Linked DNA regions of Homo sapiens. The protein of the gene in region 1 interacts with the protein of each later gene in a pairwise test. Each region holds a gene or a part of one and is shown on either strand. Other genes may lie near its edges.

Region 1 (3,500 bases):
GTGCCAGACTCCATGCTAGAGACTGGAGACAGCAGTACACAAGACAGACAGGGTCCTCATTCTTCCGGAGCTTATGACCTTGGCAGGACAAGTGGCGGAGGAAGCAGTCAGTTAACAATGGTGGGTGGTAGGAGGTGGTGGGGAGAAAGATATCAGTGTGGTGGGACAGTGATGGGGTGAGGGGGCCCAGATCACCAGTGATGATACAGATGGAGTAAGGGTGAGATGGGGGTAGGGGGTGGCAGGTAGAGATAGAGCAGGAGGGTCCAGGAGGACCAGATGGGGAAGGCCTTGAACGCTAGGCCCCTGGGCTAGGAATTTGGACTGTATTCTCTAGGCCGTGGTTTTGCACACTGAGGTCTTATGAAGCCCCAGGGGAGTGGAGGGGAAGCCTTATTTGGGGTTTTCATTTAGATAATTATCTGAGTCACCTGTGTGGAATGAGTTTAAAGCCACACTCTGCTGCCTGATATCAAGGCTTCCATGGACTATGGCACCTGAATGGTCACCTGGTAACAAGCAAAGAGCATGGCGAGCTTGGGATGTGGACAATGTGCTCACATCAGAGGGGCTCTGCAGTGACCCAAACTGGGGAGCTCATGGGAAATGCAGATCCCCACAGGGCACCCTGTGGCACAGGCACGAAAGCGCAGAGGAACCTGCTCTACCAGGGCCTGAGCCACATCCACACTGTGAACAAATTGGTTTCAGCAAAACAACATCATCCATCACATTACATTAATGCTGTTAATTTGAATGTTATGGTTTTGTAGCTTTATTTTTATTCAATTTGTGATTTGGTGTTGGTTTTATGGTTCTTCAAGGGCTATAAGCAGAAGGAGTTGATTACAGGGAGTTTTGCGTTTGTATATATTTGAATAACAATATAATGAAGGGTTCCACAAGAACTTCTTTCCCCTTTCGAAGGGGTCTGGCAGTACGTGACTCTGGTTTGAGGAATGCGGCCACAGACACATCATTGTCACCGAAGGAGGGATCCCCTAAGCGTCCCTGGAGTGCATGAAGGATGCTAGACCGCATGACCAGCAGAAAGGAACCCTGTGCCCCAAGCGGCGGGGAGGGAGTGCAGTTGAGCCAGGGCAGAAGGTGCCTCCGAGGAAGGCACGTGGGGCAGAGGACTCTTCCTACCCAGCAGAGCTGAGGAAAGAGACAGCATCTGGAAGTGGGCACAGCTGTCACGGACCAGCACCCAGACGGCAAGAGTAGGTGGTGCAATCACTCCCTCAGAATTTCCAGAATTGTGGGTGGCCCATGAGGCAGCCTCCTGGGTCAGACAGCAGACAGAGGGGGAAGTGAAACCCCAGTGCCTTTCTCACCCACAGAAGATGCCTCGGGCACCAGGGTTCCTTTCTGCTGCAATTTAGCATCCTGCATGCATTCAAGGAACACTTATTAATGCCCACCGTACCCTAGGCTCCTGGACAGAGCTGCAGCCAGGCTGAGAGGAGAGACATCAACCGATCAATCACCCATAAAGGGGAAAATGTACCAGAGGTCTCGAGAGCACAGGAGGGGCGACCTGGCCCAGCATGAGGGCATAAGAAAAGGCTTCTCTGAGGAAGTGCCATTTGAGCCAAGAGCAGATGAGACAAAAACAGGATGGCAGGAGAGTACTTGGCAAAAGGCACAGGCTGGAGAGGGCGTGGTGGGAGGGAGCATGGCCCATCCAGGAGCCCAGAGGGGCTGGCATGGCTGCAGCAGAGAGAAGGGGCAGAGGGAGGTGAGTGAGGCAGGTGGTACACCCTCAGGACCGGCAATGGGAAGCCACTGGGGCGGGATGACGTGCACTGATCTGACCTGCATTTGGAAGAATCAGCCCTGGGGATGGGCAGAGGATGGACAGGGAGGGGGCCCAGGTAGGAGGAGGGAGGAAGAGCAGCCAGGTAGCTGGCACAGCAGGACAGAGTGTGTGGCAGCCAATGTGAAGGTGGAGCAAAGTGTGTGGATTGGGAGATGCACCTGCGCACACCCAGGTGAGGCCATGGCTCTGCATTAAGGTCCAGGGTGGGGCTGCAAAACCAGCAAGAGCTTCCTGGCCAAGCCACCCATCAGCCTATGTAGGGGTCCCCAAGACAGGGCCAAGCCTGGGTAGGAGCAGCCCAGGCTGTGGCTGGTGAGGGCGAGGGTGACGAACGCAGGGCACAGAGAGGGGGTACTCACTCTGAGCCTGCCCTGAGGCAGAGGCCTTCTTGGCGCCTGAGTGCTGGATGAGCACATTGTCCTTGTCATAGGTGCCACCGTCCTGGCCCACCTCCACCACCTGCACCTGGGGCAGCGCCGTGTTCCACTTCACCACATACTTGGGCCCCAGGGGCACCAGGCTGCTGATCTCCAGCTGGCCCCTGTTGGAACAGAGAGGACAAGGCCCTGGAGAGGCTGCAGCCACCCTGCCCCAGGGCTGGCCCAGGGCATTGCTCCTCCACACCAGCTCAGCCAGGCTTCACGCAGCCCCAGCGCAAGACCTCAGACCAAAACCAAGCCAGGCAGAGCAGGGATCCCTCGCCAGGGTAGAAGCACCAGGCGCCCAGGCCCCAGCCCCATATCCAGAATCACATGGCACCAGAGCCCCAGAGCCCCAGAGCCCCAGAGCCCCGGAGCCCCCTGAACCACGTACCTGTGGTTGGCAGGCCTGGGAAAAAAGACAAGAAGGAAAGGGAGATTGTTATTACAATGGAGTGGCTAATCTGGGGGCTGTGACCCCGCTGGGGGCCAGCCATGGGGCTGGGCATCGGGAATAGAAGGAGAGACAGCCTCCTGCGGGGAATGAGGGCATCAGAGGCCAGGTGTGGACAGAAGCGGGCCTTCCTTCATCTCTGGGTCTCACAACAGCCCCGCTAGGAAGCTTAGATGATCCCAGACAAGGACACTGATCCTCAGTCAAGTGAAGTGACTCAGCCCAAATCACCCAAACTGATTCCCCAAAACCGGGCCACTAGCACCCCACTTTGCACTTTGCGCTAGAGCAACATGAAGGCAGAGAGGGTATTCATCATACCGCCGGCACCACACGGTGCCCAGGATATAAACGGGACTGAAGAATTACCTTCTTTGATTGAGTGAGTGAGTAAATGAATGAATGGGTCAGCCATAAGCCCTGCCCAGACCCATGTGTGACAGAGGCTTCCTTGCCTGAGTCCCCAACCAGGCCCTGAGCTCCCGGAGGCAGGGGCTGGATCTCATTCTAGGTGTGAACTGGCACAGAGCCAGGTCTCGGACTACATTCAATGGATTCATAGACGGGTGGACAAATGGGTGGATGGTGAATGAGTGCACAGGTCCTGAAACAGCCCTGCTTGTCCCCTTCCAGGACTCGTGATCGGTAACCATGGAAAATCCCCAAACCTACTCTGTGGCCAAACCCAGGAAGGCCCAAGCTGACTCGGTACAGGGCCTAGAACTGATTCAGCTGGGAGGCGGGAGAGCTATGCTGGGATTCACATTCCACTGAGGTGATTGTTTCCCTCCTGGATTTCGGTGAT
Region 2 (3,500 bases), on another chromosome or scaffold:
ATATAAAATATGACACTTATAAAAAGTATGTGCTTAAGAATTCTATTAAGCTTCAGATGCATATTATACTGCTTTATTCTCTATTTTACATTGAACTAATTTGGAAGATTAGATGTGACCTAGCATAGAAAAATAATTGCAGTAAATGACTGTGTGAAAGAGGTGAGAATCTACACTTATCCTGGCTATTCTGAGAGTCACCGTGAAGTAGAATTTATGGAGGGTTTTGAGTGAGGAGTGAGTGGGACTGGATGAGTGGGAGGTGGCAGGTTATTGACACTGATGGAGCAGTGTGGACTGAAACTCAGTAGGAAGCATCACTTACCCTGCATCTGAGCTGTTGCCACAAAGCAGAGCATCATTTTGCCCCTCTAAAAAATAAAAGTGACCTATTTAAAGAGAAAGGAATAGAAAGAATCATTAAAATCCTGTAAAACACTTCAGCCACCCTGTTTAGGTGGCAAAGCTCACAAATGTTTTCAATCATAATGAGATGGATAAACTAATAAATATATATGGCTAAAGAGATTTTTCACAATATTGAACAAATATCAATATATAACATTTTTGATTATACAAATGGTTAGCAAATCTATGTTAAAAAGAAAAATGTTCAGAAGGAATTACTATGATAACATTCTTATATCAGCATTCATTGCAAATATAAGCTCAAATTGCATGGGATACATTAAGAAAGAGCTGCCAGTCTATTGCTGGGCACAAAAAGTAAGAAAGAAGAAAGCCTTGTTGTTTCTAGGTGTTTTCATGCAAATAAATTTTACCTTACATATACTTTTCTCCCCAGGCTCAAAATAGATTCAGACATTTTTTCCCGCCAATTTTAACTTAATTTCCTGTGAGAAGTGGGATTAGGTATTTATTCCCTCTTATGATACTGTAAATAAGTGTTTTGTTTGAAATTTTTGCTTGATTTCTGCCTTTCAAATGAAGAAAATAAACTTGTTTCTTTGGAGAGATATGTTGTCTGAGTATATCTAGTTTTTATTTTTAAGCTATGGAGAGCTATCTAGTTTTTATTTTTAAGGCATGACATATAACTTCAGTAAGTTGCAAAGATGATCTCAGAAAACATGCACACACATGCAAACATACGTATTTTTATATTCACATACAAACATGCACACACATATGAAAAATGACAGAGGGGCTGGGCTCAATGTTAAGAAATCATGCTGAAGTATATGGCATAAGCTTATTCTGATGTTCATACCTTAAATATAATCAAACTAAACTGGTAACTACAATACAATGATGACACTAAAGGGACTAATTAGAATATGAATAAGTGAATGGCTAAATCAGGGTTACTTAACCTTCTGAGGAGCACACAAATTCTTATTTCATCTTGATAAATGGTTTCTCTATTTTCAGATATAGCATATGTACTCAATACATATGTTGCATCAACCAAATAGGGCCAAATTATTTCCCCTCAGTCTTCTTAACACATTTCAGTGGAATACACTGAATAGTTCAAACTACTGACTTATTTATTAAAATGACTGAAAAACCTGATTAATGTCTACCAAATAAACATTTTTTAATATGGCATAATATGAAATTACTTTCAACATGAGTATAAGACAACACATTTTCAAATGAGAACTTTTACTATATCAATGGACAGATAAGAAAAATAGAATAAGGTATCATTTGATATCTCTTTTATATGTATTAAATCATCTTAAATTAGTCTAAGTCACTTGATTCACATCTAAATTGAGATAATTTCCATTATATATAATATTTAATATTTAGAGAACTAAACAACTTAATGGTTTATAGAGTATATCTTACTTTTATCCTCAATATATTCATCCCAGTTAAATATGCTCACTGTCCTATTGAAAGTAGTACCATTCCCATCCAATGAATTGTTAAAGAAGGAAGTGATATTTATTTCAAAGGAAGAATTATCTGGAGGCCATTGCAAACATTTATTTCGTAGGTTGCCCATGAACAACTGCAATCCTATTAGCGCAAACACGCTTAGACAGAACACAGTCAAGATCATGACATCAGAAAGCTTCTTCACTGACTGGATCAGGGCCCCCACAATGGTCTTCAGGCCTACAAACAAAATCAGAAGGGGGAATTTAAATATACTACTCAACAGCTATTTTACCGGCAAAAATATCATGAGCTTGTCCTGGAAAATAAAAATGTCATGCAGAATGCCAACAATATTAGTTTAATGTTTGTGATTGAATAACATTTTCATGAAAAGCCTGCTAGCTGGTGAAAATGAATGAAAGCAGAACTTGTATGTTCATTAGAAAACTGTGAATGGAAATGAACCAAATGTGTATTTCCAAACACTCTTTAGAGCAAAAGAATGATTTTGTTATTCATGCTTAAACATCAACCTTGTGTAAATATTTTGCTTTTATTTGCAGATGTCTTACTCCCTAACCCCTTATTGGTTTTAGAAAAGTCTATGTGAATAGAGTAGTAAGAAATCTTGAAGTCGATGAATTATGAGGTTATATATTTGTGAATTCTGCAAGCTTGAGTATGGGTTAAAAAAAGGAAGACATCTGAAATCTGAGCCCCATGCAGCACTCATGCTATCCCTTGCTCTTTCATTTATCTGCAGCTTAAAAGATTGCCAGTTTTAGGCCTAAACTGTCAAATTTGCATCAGTCTGAATGTCTCTTAGTCTAGCTTCTATGCGGAAAGCTTGATGTTATAGGATGCAAACCATGTAGCCTGTTACTGCAAATGCCTCATGCAACACTTGTTAAACTCAAAGGCTGATTTAGAATAGTTTTAAAGAAAGCAACGAGTAAAAAGCAAAGAATCAAATCCATCCAAAAAATGATGTACCAATTCTTGCTTTTTTACATATTTATTTGCAATATGCAACTAGCAACAAGGCTTCTGCACAAAAGCTGTGATTGTAGCACCACTGTAGCTAAAGTCAGCCTCGGTGTTTAACCTAGCTCTCACCTGGAATGACTGAAATTGTTTTCAATGCTCGGAGAACTCTGAATGTTCTCAACGCTGAGACATTGCCCAGGTCCACAAACTCTGTCACATATCTGTAATAGGGGGTTCACACACAAACACAATGACAGAACACAAGAAACAGTTGGAGATATAAGGGGCCTACCACCTTATACCATTTTCTTCTTACCTGGAATTACAGAAATAGTTTTCAAAGCTCTCAAGACTCTGAAAGTTCGAAGAGCTGAAACATTGCCTAGGTTTACAAATTCTGTTACATACCTGTAGAATTAAATCAGAGTTATTCAGAATTTAGGGAAATCTACGTCTTCCTTGGTCTTTCATCAAGACCTTTTTAATTTCATGAGTGTCGCCATCAGCTTTCCCAATTAAGAGGAAAATGGCATTGTCATCAATCATAATCTCTGTTATTTGGGAAACTTTATTACTTTACAGTGCTAATTGAAACCAAAGCCATGTAATTTACTATGATAGTTCCTAATTTCTCCAAACTGGATAATTTGATTGGAAGA
Region 3 (3,934 bases), about 130 Mb from region 1:
CATGTTTTCCTTTTAACAGGAGAGAAAAGTGAGGAGCAGTGATTACCGCCACAGAAATATCCTTTCATGGCGTGTCCTCCGGCATGGTCTACTCAGTGTGGTGGAGCCACTGCAGGTCCCTCCTCCAGGGATGTAGGAATGCCAGTGAAGGCCTTCCTGAGTTGGGAGAGAGGCAGAGGAGTGAGTGGAGGCAGGGCTGTAGCTTCTGTGCCCCGCCCCTACCCAGGCTCTCCAGGGAGGCAGGAAAGAGGCTGTGTTTAGACCTGAGGGAGCCAGCTGTGAGGCTGGAGCAGTTGCTGCATGGCGGGGCGGGGGCTCCACAGGGCTGTTCACCTGCTGCTCTGTGCAGAGACAGCCTCAAGTCCAGCTGCTGGGGTTGCATCACCTGCAGCTAAAACAGCCACAGGGCCCAGGCTGCCAAAAGGCAACAGAAGCAATCTAAGAAACCAGGCAAGGGAGCCTCCCCCATCTCCCTGTTGCCTTTTGGGAGCATAGAGCTTCCCTCTGAAGGTAACACCCTTTGCATTTTTCTCTCTTGACTCTGTTCATCAACTTCCACTCCCAAATACTTGTGCCCTTCCTTCTCCACAGATATACACAATCCCTGGGCACTCTCCACCTAGGTCAGCTGGCTCTAGTAAGGCAGCAGTCAAGGGAGTTTCTGGGCTGGGACCCCCTCTGGGGTGCAGGCTGGGGTGCCCTGCTGGTATGTGCCCCAACAGGTTTTTCCCTATCAGCCTTGAAATCAGCCTGCAGCCTGTCTGACCTGCCCCCCAGGGAGCTGGAGCCAGAGGCAGAGCCAGGTCAGAAGCTGGGGCAGAGCCAGGTCAGAAGCTGGACTTTGAGACTAGGTCTCTGTGGTCCCACCTGGACCCACAGGGAAGGCAGTGCATAAAAGCCTCCTGTGTTTGAGGCTGAGCCGCTGAGAGGCTGAGTGGAGTTCACTCACATGGATTGAGGCCCAGTTCCTGGGAGAAGAGATGCTGGGCAGGAAGGTGTCTGCATGTGGGACTCTGTACAGCCCGGTCCTCTCCCACGTCTGGGAGGGGCCAGAGTCAGACAACTGCTGGGTTCGTCCCTAAGAGAGGTCATCTGACTGGCTGTTCAGCCTAGGCTGCACACACCCCCACTTTCCTCTACCAGGCCACACCGGAGGCAGTGCTCACACAGGCAAGCTACCAGGCCACAACAACGACACCCACCTCACCTCTGGCACCTCTGAGTAAGTACTGGGCCCACGGCCCCATGCCAGGAGGGCTTGTTGATTGCTTGGGGGAGGGAAAAATGAGTTTTCCTTTTCCAACATGAGAGTGCCTCCTTTCTGTCCAGGCATCCACGTACTTGCAAGAACTCTTGCTCACATCAGCTAAGAGATTGCACCTGCTGACCTAGAGATTCCGGCCTGTGCTCCTGTGCTGCTGAGCAGGTAGGCAGCTGTACAGGCAGGAATTGAGGGTTGCTTGTCAGCTGGGGCTGCCGGTGGGGGAAGATGCTATTTCGAGTTGTCTTCCACTCTGCGTGGTTAATCCTGCCACCTCACCTCAGCTCCCCTGCACTGCCCAGGAGACCCCAGCCAGGCCCAGGAAGGAGGGCCATAGACCTCAGAAGGGAGGCATCTACCGCGGACCAAGGCCTGAGGAGCTTTGGTGCTGACCCTGGCATCAGGGAGGGTTGGCGCCTGGTCCAGGAGCATTCCGCATCAATCCCCACTTCCTAAAGGAGTGGGGAGAGGTGGGGAAGGTGGGGGCTCCCCTCTTACCTCACCATTTCAGCTCCATTTCTGGCTCCAAGCCTAAGCAGGTTGATCTTTTTTTCTGCAGCAAGGAAAGGAACAGGTGACTGGAACCCAGGGTCCAGGGTCTCGGGGGGGTCATAAGGAGTCCCTGAAGGGCCAGGAAATTCAGCTCTGTGGGCTCCTGTTTCCTTCCCCAGGGCAACCAGTAGCACCATGTCTGTGACTGGCGGGAAGATGGCACCGTCCCTCACCCAGGAGATCCTCAGCCACCTGGGCCTGGCCAGCAAGGTAGGGGCTGTTGGGATTTTAGAGATCACTTTTAGTATCTCAGCTCGGGCTGTGAGAGGATGGGAGGCAGGAAAGTGGAGGACAGGCCCTGAGGTTATGCTGAGGAGGTGTAGGCAGCCTGGCCCTGGCCCTTGCCAACTACCCTGTGCTCCCACAGACTGCAGCGTGGGGGACCCTGGGCACCCTCAGGACCTTCTTGAACTTCAGCGTGGACAAGGATGCGCAGAGGCTACTGAGGGCCATTACTGGCCAAGGTGAGCCCCTTTCCCCCGGCACTTGAGACTGCCTTTTAGAGCCAATCTGTAGACCAAGGAGGAGCCAGGAAGGAGGAACTAGTGATGTTGGAGAAATGTTTGTGGAATGCCTTCATTCTTGTATGTCAGGCGCCACAGTAGGTGTGTCAAACCCATTCTCACAACACCCCTGTGAGGCAAGGCTTATTATTTCCATTTTCCAGATGAGGAAACTGGGGCTCAGGGAGATTAAGAGGCTTGCCCAAGGTCACTCAGCTCATGACGGAGGTGGTATTCTCATCTAGGTCAGCCGATCCCCCCAAGTCGTATTTTTTTTTAACCACCACACCAGGCCACCTTTGCCTTGGTCTGGGTCAGATTTGCATGCTGTTTTGACATTTTATTTGCAACTTCTTTTGAGATAAAATGGAAGTGGGGGTGATATAGCCCCTGCTCCTTTCCTTCCCAGCCCTCTCCTGGAGCGCCTTCCCTCCTCCAAGGAGTAGGAACATCCCACTATGTAAAGACCCTGCTCACAGCACAGCCCTCATCTCGGTTCAGGCGTGGACCGCAGTGCCATTGTGGACGTGCTGACCAACCGGAGCAGAGAGCAAAGGCAGCTCATCTCACGAAACTTCCAGGAGCGCACCCAACAGGTGAGGCCATGCTGACCTCCCACAGCAGTGGACTGGGGTGAGAAACCCCCTGGAGGACTCGAGAGACAGCAACAGCCGCTGAGGCCAGCCCCTGCTTCCTGGCTAAACAGGGCCTGAGATGAAAACCAGCCAAATCTTCCCAAACCTCCCCACACTTCTGGGGCCCTTCCCCTCACCCCCGTCCCTCTGCTGTGAGGACCATTTATTGTAGGACCTGATGAAGTCTCTACAGGCAGCACTTTCCGGCAACCTGGAGAGGATTGTGATGGCTCTGCTGCAGCCCACAGCCCAGTTTGACGCCCAGGAATTGAGGACAGCTCTGAAGGTAGCAGGAGGGGAGACTTGCTGGGGTGTCTGGGGAAGGGAGAAGGCTGTCAGCCTTGCTTTTGCAAGACGAGAGTCCCCCTCTCGTCGTCCCATATTGTTTCTTAGAAGGAGAAGCAGCCAGCGTCTGCCCCTCTGTCTGCCATCCTAATGACACGGCCAGTCTGAGAGTAGACTCCCAATTTCTTGTAGGCCTCAGATTCTGCTGTGGACGTGGCCATTGAAATTCTTGCCACTCGAACCCCACCCCAGCTGCAGGAGTGCCTGGCAGTCTACAAACACAGTAAGAATATAGAGGGAGGGGTCCCAGATGCTGGAGAAGGGGCTGTAGGACAGGCCACTCCTCTCCTGTACTCCCCATAGGTGAGCTATCTGGCAACCTGGCTGCCTAAGTTCTATTCCCTTGGGGTCTTTCCTCTTGCCCCCACCAGTGCCTCAGTCTCTCAGGGGAGAGACCCAGATGTGATCATTAAAAAAAGAGAAGCAGGCCAGGTACGGTGACTCATGCCTGTCACCCCAACACTTTGGGAGGCTGAGGTGGGCAGGTCACTTGAGCCCAGGAGTTCAAGACCAGTCACAGGCAATAAAGGAAAACCTCATCTGTGCTAAAAATTCAAAAAAACCAGCTGGTCATGGTGGTGTGCGCCTGTGGTCCCAGCTACTCAGGAGTTTGAGGTGGGAGGATCACCCCAGCTTGG

What was found. The genes of interacting proteins can lie anywhere in the genome.
Region 2: the proteins of ARHGEF10L (region 1) and SCN2A interact in a two-hybrid assay, tested with the Homo sapiens proteins (one large-scale study listed by IntAct).
Region 3: the proteins of ARHGEF10L (region 1) and ANXA9 interact in a two-hybrid assay, tested with the Homo sapiens proteins (one large-scale study listed by IntAct).

What each region holds. Positions count from the first base shown.
Region 1 is NC_000001.11:17,633,698-17,637,197, reverse strand, and holds part of ARHGEF10L (rho guanine nucleotide exchange factor 10-like protein), read right to left. Parts: intron 2,651-3,500; coding exon 2,636-2,650; intron 2,364-2,635; coding exon 2,182-2,363; intron 1-2,181.
Region 2 is NC_000002.12:165,308,914-165,312,413, reverse strand, and holds part of SCN2A (sodium channel protein type 2 subunit alpha), read right to left. Parts: intron 3,250-3,500; coding exon of another isoform or gene 3,158-3,249; intron 3,063-3,157; coding exon 2,971-3,062; intron 2,092-2,970; coding exon 1,819-2,091; intron 390-1,818; coding exon 326-389; intron 1-325. UniProt on the Homo sapiens protein: Mediates the voltage-dependent sodium ion permeability of excitable membranes.
Region 3 is NC_000001.11:150,981,158-150,985,091, forward strand, and holds the start of ANXA9 (annexin A9), read left to right. Parts: upstream 1-1,134; 5' UTR 1,135-1,222; intron 1,223-1,329; 5' UTR 1,330-1,426; intron 1,427-1,932; 5' UTR 1,933-1,948; coding exon 1,949-2,023; intron 2,024-2,180; coding exon 2,181-2,277; intron 2,278-2,817; coding exon 2,818-2,912; intron 2,913-3,123; coding exon 3,124-3,237; intron 3,238-3,428; coding exon 3,429-3,519; intron 3,520-3,934. UniProt on the Homo sapiens protein: Low affinity receptor for acetylcholine known to be targeted by disease-causing pemphigus vulgaris antibodies in keratinocytes.